3 separate regions of the Homo sapiens genome follow, and all the other regions are linked to region 2. Evidence: fine-mapped expression QTL. A gene starts in region 2. Each other region holds a variant in brackets. All regions are shown on one strand. Distances are from middle to middle. Region 1 overlaps CPHXL (cytoplasmic polyadenylated homeobox like). Region 2 holds the start of TMEM231 (transmembrane protein 231). Region 3 overlaps CHST5 (carbohydrate sulfotransferase 5).

Evidence for each region.
Region 1: its variant is fine-mapped to the expression of TMEM231 in whole blood (TOPMed, PIP above 0.99).
Region 3: its variant is fine-mapped to the expression of TMEM231 in iPS cells (PhLiPS, PIP 0.95).

What each region holds. Positions count from the first base shown.
Region 1 is chr16:75,718,676-75,721,435 of GRCh38, forward strand. The region is part of intron 1 of CPHXL (cytoplasmic polyadenylated homeobox like); the gene reads right to left. Among named protein-coding and RNA genes, the nearest start is that of CPHXL, 6.4 kb to the right of the region's middle. The variant G/A (reference allele first, on the strand shown) is at 1,616.
Region 2 is chr16:75,555,124-75,557,883 of GRCh38, forward strand. It overlaps TMEM231 (transmembrane protein 231), which reads right to left and starts at 1,129. Exons shown (of 7, transcript NM_001077418.3): 1 at 948-1,129; 2 at 681-850. The coding sequence starts at 1,086. RefSeq lists silencers at 820-899, 1,190-1,299 and enhancers at 1,340-1,419, 1,450-1,559.
Region 3 is chr16:75,529,809-75,532,568 of GRCh38, forward strand. CHST5 (carbohydrate sulfotransferase 5) reads right to left here. Exons shown (of 4, transcript NM_024533.5): 4 at 1-1,832. The coding sequence starts at 576. Among named protein-coding and RNA genes, the nearest start is that of CHST5, 4.9 kb to the right of the region's middle. The variant A/C (reference allele first, on the strand shown) is at 1,536.

The DNA of each region.
Region 1 (2,760 bases), 160 kb after region 2:
TTTGTAAATAGAGTTTTATCGAAACACCATCACATTCATTCACTTATGCATTGCCTATGGCTGTTTTCAAGCCACAACAGCAGGCTTAGTAGTTGAGGCTCCAATGTGTCTAGGGTCGACACAGCCTAACATATTTACTATCTGGATTTGAGAATTTATATTTAAAATTAGAACTAATTGCAGAAGAATATTTTATTATTTCATCACCGTAAGGTAAAACAGGAAAAACTGATCTATACTGATTGGAAGGCAGGACATGGGCTACTGAGGGAATGGAATCGGGAGCCTGAAAGTGAGCGAACAGAGGCCTCTGGGTGCCACTAAGTTTTCTTTATCTGAGTGCTGAGTTCCACGAGTGTAGTTGATTTGTGAACATTAGTTAAATTAAACATGTATAAATATTTGCTATTTTTGGCATGCATGCTATATTTCAATTAAATATTTCTTTTGAGCCAAGATGGCCAAATAGGAACAGCTACAGTCTACAGCTCCCAGCGTGAGCAACACAGAAGACAGGTGATTTCTCCATTTCCAACTGAGGTACTGGGTTCATCTCACTGGGGAGTGTTGGGAAGTGGGTACAGGAGAGTGGGTGCAGGGCACCGAGCATGAGCCGAAGCAGGGTGAGGCATCGCCTCACTTGGGAAGTGCAAGGGGTCAGGGAATTCCCTTTCCTAGTGAAAGAAAGGGGTGACAGACGGCACCAGGAAAATCAGGTCACTCCCACCCTAATACTGCGCTTTTCCAATGGTCTTAGCAAACGGCACACCAGGAGATTATATGCTGCGCCTGGCTCAGAGGGTCCTACGCCCATGGAGCCTCGCTCACTGCTAGCACAGCAGTGTGAGATCAAACTGCAGGGTGGCAGCGAGCCTGGAGGAGGGGCGCCTGTCATTACCCAGGCTTGCTTAGGTAAAAAAAGCTGCCAGGAAGCTCAAACTGGGTGGAGCCCACTGCAGCTCAAGGAGGCCTGCCTGCCTCTCTAGACTCCACCTCCGGGGGCAGGGAACAGCCAAATAAAAGGCAGCAGAATCATCTTCAGACTTAAATGTCCCTGTCTGACAGCTTTGAAGAGAGTAGCGGTTCTCCCAGCACGCAGCTGGAGATCTGAGAACGGACAGACTGCCTCCTCAAGTGGGTCCCTGACCCCTGAGTAGCCTAACTGGGAGACACCCCCCAGTAGGGGCAGACTGACACCTCACACGGCCGGGTACTCCTCCGAGACAAAACTTCTAGAGGAACGATCAGGCAGCAACATTTGCTGCTCACCAATATCTGCTGTTCTGCAGCCTCTGCTGCTGATACCCAGTCAAACAGGGTCTGGAGTGGACCTCCGGCAAACTCCAACAGACCTGTAGCTGAGGGTCCTGACTGTTAGAAGGAAAACTAACAAACAGAAAGGACATCCACACTAAAACCCCATCTGTATGTCACCATCATCAAAGACCAAAGGTAGACAAAACCACAAAGATGGGGAAAAAACAGAACAGAAAAACCGGAAACTCTAAAAATCAGAGTGCCTCTCCTCCTCCAAAGGAACGCAGCTCCTCACCAGCAATTGAACAAAGCTGGATGGAGAATGACTTTGACGAGTTGAGAGAAGAAGGCTTCAGAC[G/A]ATCAAACTACTCCGAGCTAAAGGAGGAAGTTTGAACCCATGGCAAAGAAGTTAAAAACCTTGAAAAAAAATTAGATGAATGGCTAAGTAGAATAACCAAAGCAGGGAAGTCGTTAAAGGACCTGATGGAGCTGAAAACCACGGCACGAGAACTACATGACGAATGCACAAGCCTCAGTAGCCGATTCGATCAACTGGAAGAAAGGGCATCAGTGATGGAAGATCAAAGGAATGCAATGAAGCAAGAAGAGAAGTTTAGAGAAAAAAGAATAAAAAGAAACAAACAAAGCCTCCAAGAAATATGGGACTATGTGAAAAGACCAAATCTACGTCTGATTGGTGGACCTGAAAGTCACAGAGAGAATGGAACCAAGTTGGAAAACACTCTGCAGGATATTATCCAGGAGAACTTCCCCAATCTAGCAAGGCAGGCCAACATTCACATTCAGGAAATACAGAGAACACCACAAAGATACTCCTCAAGAAGAGCAACTCCAAGACACATAATTGTCAGATTCACCAAAGTTGAAATGAAGGAAAAAATGGGAAGGGCAGCCAGAGAGAAAGGTCGGGTTACCCACAAAGGGAAGCCTATCAGACTAACAGCGGATCTCTCAGCAGAAACTCTACAAGCCAGAAGAGAGTGGGGGCCAATATTCAATATTCTTAAAGAAAAGAATTTTCAACCAGAATTTCATATCCAGCCAAACTAAGCTTCATAAGTGAAGGAGAAATAAAATCCTCTACAGACAAGCAAATGCTGAGAGATTTTGTCACCACCAGGCCTGCCCTAAAAGAGCTCCTGAAGGAAGCACTTAACATGGAAAGGAAAAACTGGTACCAGCCACTGCAAAAACATGCTCAATTGTTAAGACCATCGAGGCTAGGAAGAAACTGCATGAACTAAGGGGCAAAATAACCAGCTAACATCATAATGACAGGATCAAATTCACACATAACAATATTAACCTTAAATGTAAATGGGCTAAATGCTCCAATTAAAAGACACACACTGGCAAATTGGATAAAGAGTCAAGACCCATCAGTGTGCTGTATTCAGGAAACACATCTCACGTGCAGAGACACACATAGGCTCAAAATAAAGGGATGGAGGAAGTTCTACCAAGCAAATGGAAAACAAAAAA
Region 2 (2,760 bases):
AGCATTCGCTTATCTCAAAGCAAATACTAAATTACAGATTCCTCTCAGCGCTCTACTGGTGAAAAAATTTAAAAATAAATAAATAAATTACAGACAGTAACATGCTTCCATTTCATCCCGACAGCTTCAGGATGGCGCAGTCTCCAATGGGACAAACCCAGGGAGGCGTGACTCGGCCACAGCGCGTTCTGGGAAGGCCGCTTAACCAATCAGCGCCTTGGTTTCCAGGGGTCAGGTCTGCATAAAAATGCTGCCCTTTCCGTTCCTATAGTGGTGTGATGCAGAAACGCCGCGACAGAATGGGGTTATCTACATTAACAGCGCGCGGCCTTCCAGGCTCCTAAATGGACTTTCACAAACACCCTCCATCAGGCCAGGCCCGCGGGTGTGACCCGGGCAGACACAGGCTGCCCCCACACTTCTGGACTCTGTGTCAGGGCGCACACGCTGACAGCATGGCTAACTTTCTGGGGGCCGGGGACATCTGGGAGAAGCAGAATGAAACAGAAGATCGATTCCCTAGGTCCTAGGAGATGAAACGCCACCTTTGCGGGTTCGCGAGTCCTTAGGATCAAAGCTGGGCTCCCCAGGGCCGGGGCCGCTCGCCCCACATCCTCATTCCAGTCCCCATCCCCACCCTATCCCCGACTCTGCCCCAGGCCCAGGCGGGAACCACGCACCGAAACGAGCGGGACGCGCAGGCGATCCCCTTGCAGCCGGTTGAAGGCGGGGAACGTGCTCCAGGCGAGGAACCCGTCGCTTTCGGGTCCGAGCAGGGCCACGAGCAGCACCTGGTGTTGGAAGCGCACGGTCGGCTGCTCCTCGTAGCTGCTCCGCTTCAGCCAAAACCCTGAGTTAAAGAGGGCGGTAGGGAGGCGGTTAGGGAGGCCGGCCCTGGCCGAGCGCGCCCGGGGAGCCTCGTGGCACAGCGGCCGGGGCAGGCTCACCGTGGCTCCGGAAGGCCACCAGCAGCGGCGGGATGTACGTGAGCGCAGCGGCCAGCAGCAGGAACAGCGCGGCTTTGGAGCAGAGCCCCGCGCGGTAACTGCGCTCGACCGGGTGAGAGAAGAGCTCATAGAGCGCCATGAGCACCGCTCGCAGGCACTCCGCGAGCCGGGGGACCAAGTTTGGCTTCTCCTGGTTGCCATCGCCTCGGTCTCCACGGCAACCGACGGCTCACAGAAAGGAGCCAATAGCAAGGCCGCACCGAAAGGAGCCAGTGGCGGGGGCGGGGTTAGCGGGCGTGGCGCTGCCGGGGACGGTCGGCCTAGCTTTTCGAGCTGTGTACGTTTGCGTAAAGGCTGGGCGGCGATAGAACGTTTCCGTGGACCAGAGTCGTGGCTGTTGTCTGTGTTAACATTTGTGTAAAATAAGATGCCCATAAAAGTTGACTTGAACACTGAGGAGGAAGAACTAAATATTTAAATTTCAACTGACATGGACACAAACAATGGTCACCAAGTCCCTAAACAGGTTGTGGGAGCCCCTTGAGGCGTTCATCCAGCGCTGTTTCGGAGAAATCTCTATTTCAGTCTACTCCTATACGTCAGTTATTGAAAAACAACAATCGCAAAAACAAGTTGACCTTTTTGTGTTCCTTGAGCCCAGTCGCAAAGGGCCCTCGTGACTGGGCCTCATGCTAGACAACATGTTACAAAAAGATCTAGGGTCCCAGACCACGCCAAAAAGCTTCATGAGACCTCTCCTCGTCTGTGCACTGACGAGTGGCCGGCTCTGGAGCCCAGGTCGTTGCTTCCCAGTCTGGAGGTGAATCCTCCATAGTCTGGTGAGTGTAAATATATATATATATATGTCTTTTTCCTTCTCCTCTTCCCATTGCAATTTGCTTATTATATCAATCTGCTTATTATATTAATTTGCTTATTATAATATCTGCATTGCCATTTACGTGGGATAAAGCTTGCTTACCCTTAAAGGTACTGTGTGTGTGCCTTTTCTTCTCCCCTAGCGCGTCTCCCGCACAGAACGAACACCTGCTTTTGTGTCATCTGTTAACCCCCAGTGTGGTTCCTACTGAAGTCCAGTCAGTCACAAGCCTGGCCGTGGTCCTGGACCTGGTCCTGGGCTGAGATCAAAGCCAGGTGCTTTTGCCCCCAGATTTTCTGTTGCTTCCACTATGCTCCCATGCAAGACAGACACGGAAACACAAATCCCCTGGCTCTTCCACGGATAGAGTGGAATTACTACAAAGCTCTGATGCACTTCGTTAACCCTGTGTTGGGTACAGCTCAGCCGCGAGTTTTACAGGAATATATGGTCCTCCCCAAAGATCACTGGCTTATTGCTTAATTGAATGCCTACACCCCCCCGCCACCACCCCCAACCAATATTTCTAACATGGTAGAAGGACTTTTTAAAAAAATCTATGGTCCACAGCCAATTTCTTCATCAAATGGCCCTGAATGGCTGGGCACGGTGGCTCACGCCTGTAATCCCAACACTTTGGGAGGCCAAGGTGGGCGGATCACCTGAGGTCAGGGGTTCAAGACCAGCCTGGCCAACATGGTGAACCCTCATCTCTACTAAAAATACAAAAATTAGCCAGGCATGGTGATGGGCACCTGTAATCCCAGCTACTCTGGAGGCTGAGGCAGGAGAATCGCTTGAACCCGGGAGGCACAGATTACAGTGAGCGGAGATCACACATTGGACTCCAGCCTGGGTGGCAGCGAGACTCCATCTCAAACAACAACAACAACAACAAAAAGGTCCTGAGTGGCTGAGCACAGTGGCTCATGC
Region 3 (2,760 bases), 25 kb before region 2:
GTGGCTGTAGGAGCGGCAGGCCTCCCGGGCCAGGCTGAATGGCTGCCGCGTGCACAGTGTCTTGCATACGTCCTGCTTGCTGATGGTGCCTCGGGGAAAGGCGCTGCAGGCGGGCGGCGAGCACAGCGCGCGGCTCGTTGCCCAGTTGAAAAAGGCGGACAGGTTTCGGCTCTGTGGCATGTAGGCATCAAACACGTCCATGTCGCACAAAAAGATAGAGCGCATCAGGTCGCGCACGGCCATGTGCAGCGTTGCCGCGCTGCCCTGCGACAGGGTGGTCCACACATGCCACGCGGGCTCCATCAGGTAGAAGACGTCGGGGTGCTGGCTGAAGAGCTGGCCCAAGAAGGATGAGCCCGAGCGCCACGAGGACAGCACCAGCACGTGCACACGATCCTCGCCGCCGGCTGGGGATGAGGGCCCTGGCCGGGAGATGATGAAGAGCAGGAGGCAGGTGGTCTGTGCCAGGAGGAGCACTGTCACTGTCTTGCTGGAGAACCGTGGCAGCCACATGCGGGCGGCTGGGGGCCTTCGGGTGGAGTGGGCAACTTTAGGGACCCGGGCCCTCATGCCCATCCCATGCCCCAATTACTGCCCAGTGCCCTCAGGGATCAGCCCTCAGATTCGGCTACCCTACCCATTGGACTTCCCAAGACTCCCAAGGTCTCAGTCGAGCACTTTCCCAGGAATACGGAGTCAAGACATAGGCCAGAATATAGTCTGTGCTCACAGCAGAAGTCCAGTTGCAGAATAATGTGGGATATCATCAAACTGTCTACCTACCCACCCACCCACCTACTTACATACCTACAGGCTATCTATCTGTAGAGAGAAATACTATGTTTCAAAGAGAACTCCTGTCTTTTGCTTCAGGATACCTCTTAGAGAGACCCTTTTAGGTTGTGGAGCTAAAAGGGCTTGATGGGGGCTTCGGTGGATGTCAGAGCACCACCAGGCTCGCCGAGGTTGAATCCTGGCTCTGCCACTTCCTAGCCTATGATCTTGCTTATGAAGATCACTTAAATCTCTCTGTGACGGATCACTTTACCCGTGTGTGAAAGAGGGATAATTCCGGTACCTGGCTCACAGGATCTGGGGGGATTGGGGGGTTATTATAATGAAGATGGGGGAAGGGAACACGCAGTCATGCCCATAACTGAGGATTGCACCTTTTACAAGGTGTGCTTCTGTATTATATAATTTTTTTAACAGGCAGGTATAAAACTTTTGTCAGCCAGGCGCGGTGGCTCACGCCTGTAATCCCAGCATTATGGGAGGCCGAGGCGGGCGGATCACGAGGTCAGGAGATCGAGACCATCCTGGCTAACACAGTGAGACCCCATCTCTACTAAAAATACAAAAAATTAGCCAGGCGTGATGGTGGGCGCCTGTAGTCCCAGCTACTCGGGAGGCTGAGGCAGGAGAATGGCGTGAACCTGGGAGGCAGAGGTGGCAGTGAGCTGAGATTGCGCCACTGCACTGCAGCCTGAGTGAAGAGTGAGACTCCGTTTCAAAAAAAAAAAAAAAAACAACAA[A/C]AAAAAAACTTTTGTCATTAAAGATAAACAAGTAAATAAAGTGGACAAAGAACAGCAACTGTTGTCATCACTGGTGGGGAGTGAAGTGCTGTAGGCAGCATGGGCTCCAGAAGGAGGGTGTCCTGGAGCCCTGTGGGTTTGCAAGAAGATCAGTTGATGGGGAGCTGGGATGGAGCCCAAGAAGCAGAGAGGTGAGAGCAGAGTACTGTCCTGGCCAGCTGAGGGGACTCACCACCGTCCAGGGCTGCTGGGAGAGCTGCAACGCTGATCACAAATCCATGGGAGATGTCTCGACATCTGGCAAAGCAGGAAGGAGAGGAGATCAGAGCCCTACAGAGAGACAGCCCTGTACATAGAAAGCTCCCCAGGGTGGGAACAGAGCTGTCCTGCCTGCCTTTTGCTTCAGGATAACTCGTAGAGAGACCCTTTTGGGTTGTGGAGCTAAAGGGCTTGATGACGGTTTAGGCGGATGTCACACCACCACCAGGCTTGCTGAGGTTGAATAAGTCTGAGTAGGGCATTTCTCCAAATGGCTGGGAACTGGCGGGGTCTCCTGATGGATGGAAGCGAGAGAGCTGGCTCCAAATCCCAGCACTGCCAATGGGGAGCTATGAGACCTGGGGCAAGTGACTTAACTTCTCTGAGGCTCAATTTGCACCTCTGTAGAATGGGATTTGCAATATTTAACCTCTTAGAGCTGTTGTGATGGATGCTGCTGCAAACACCTATGAGGGGAGGGCCTGGGGAAGCATTCCTTACACACATGCCCCTGTTACTGTTACTGTCCCTGTGCTGAGCTACATCTGGAGAGAAAGAACCCCCTCCACCTGGTGAGTCTCCCCACAGAGGAGACACCCACAGGCCACCTACCCTTCCAATCCCTGTATCTCCCAGGCCATCCTCTGGCGTCCAACCACCCTGAGCCTTTAGTGGACCTTAAGAATGTCACGCATTTCTCACAGGGTGGAAGGAACACTGAGCCAGCCTCCCGCATTCCAAGGTCCTAAAGTGTTCTTCTGTTTGCACCTGTTGCATCTGCAATGATCTCAAGGCTGGGTGACTTTGGAAGGGAGGAGCCTGGAAGTTTTCTCCTTGCTCCTGCATCCTTTGCTCCTTGCCTGCCCCCTTCCCCTGTCCACACTGCCCACTGAGAGAAGCCAGGGTCTAACTTGTGAGCAGATCTCACCTCTGCTCCTTCGCCTCAATGCGGGGACAGGAGTGAGCG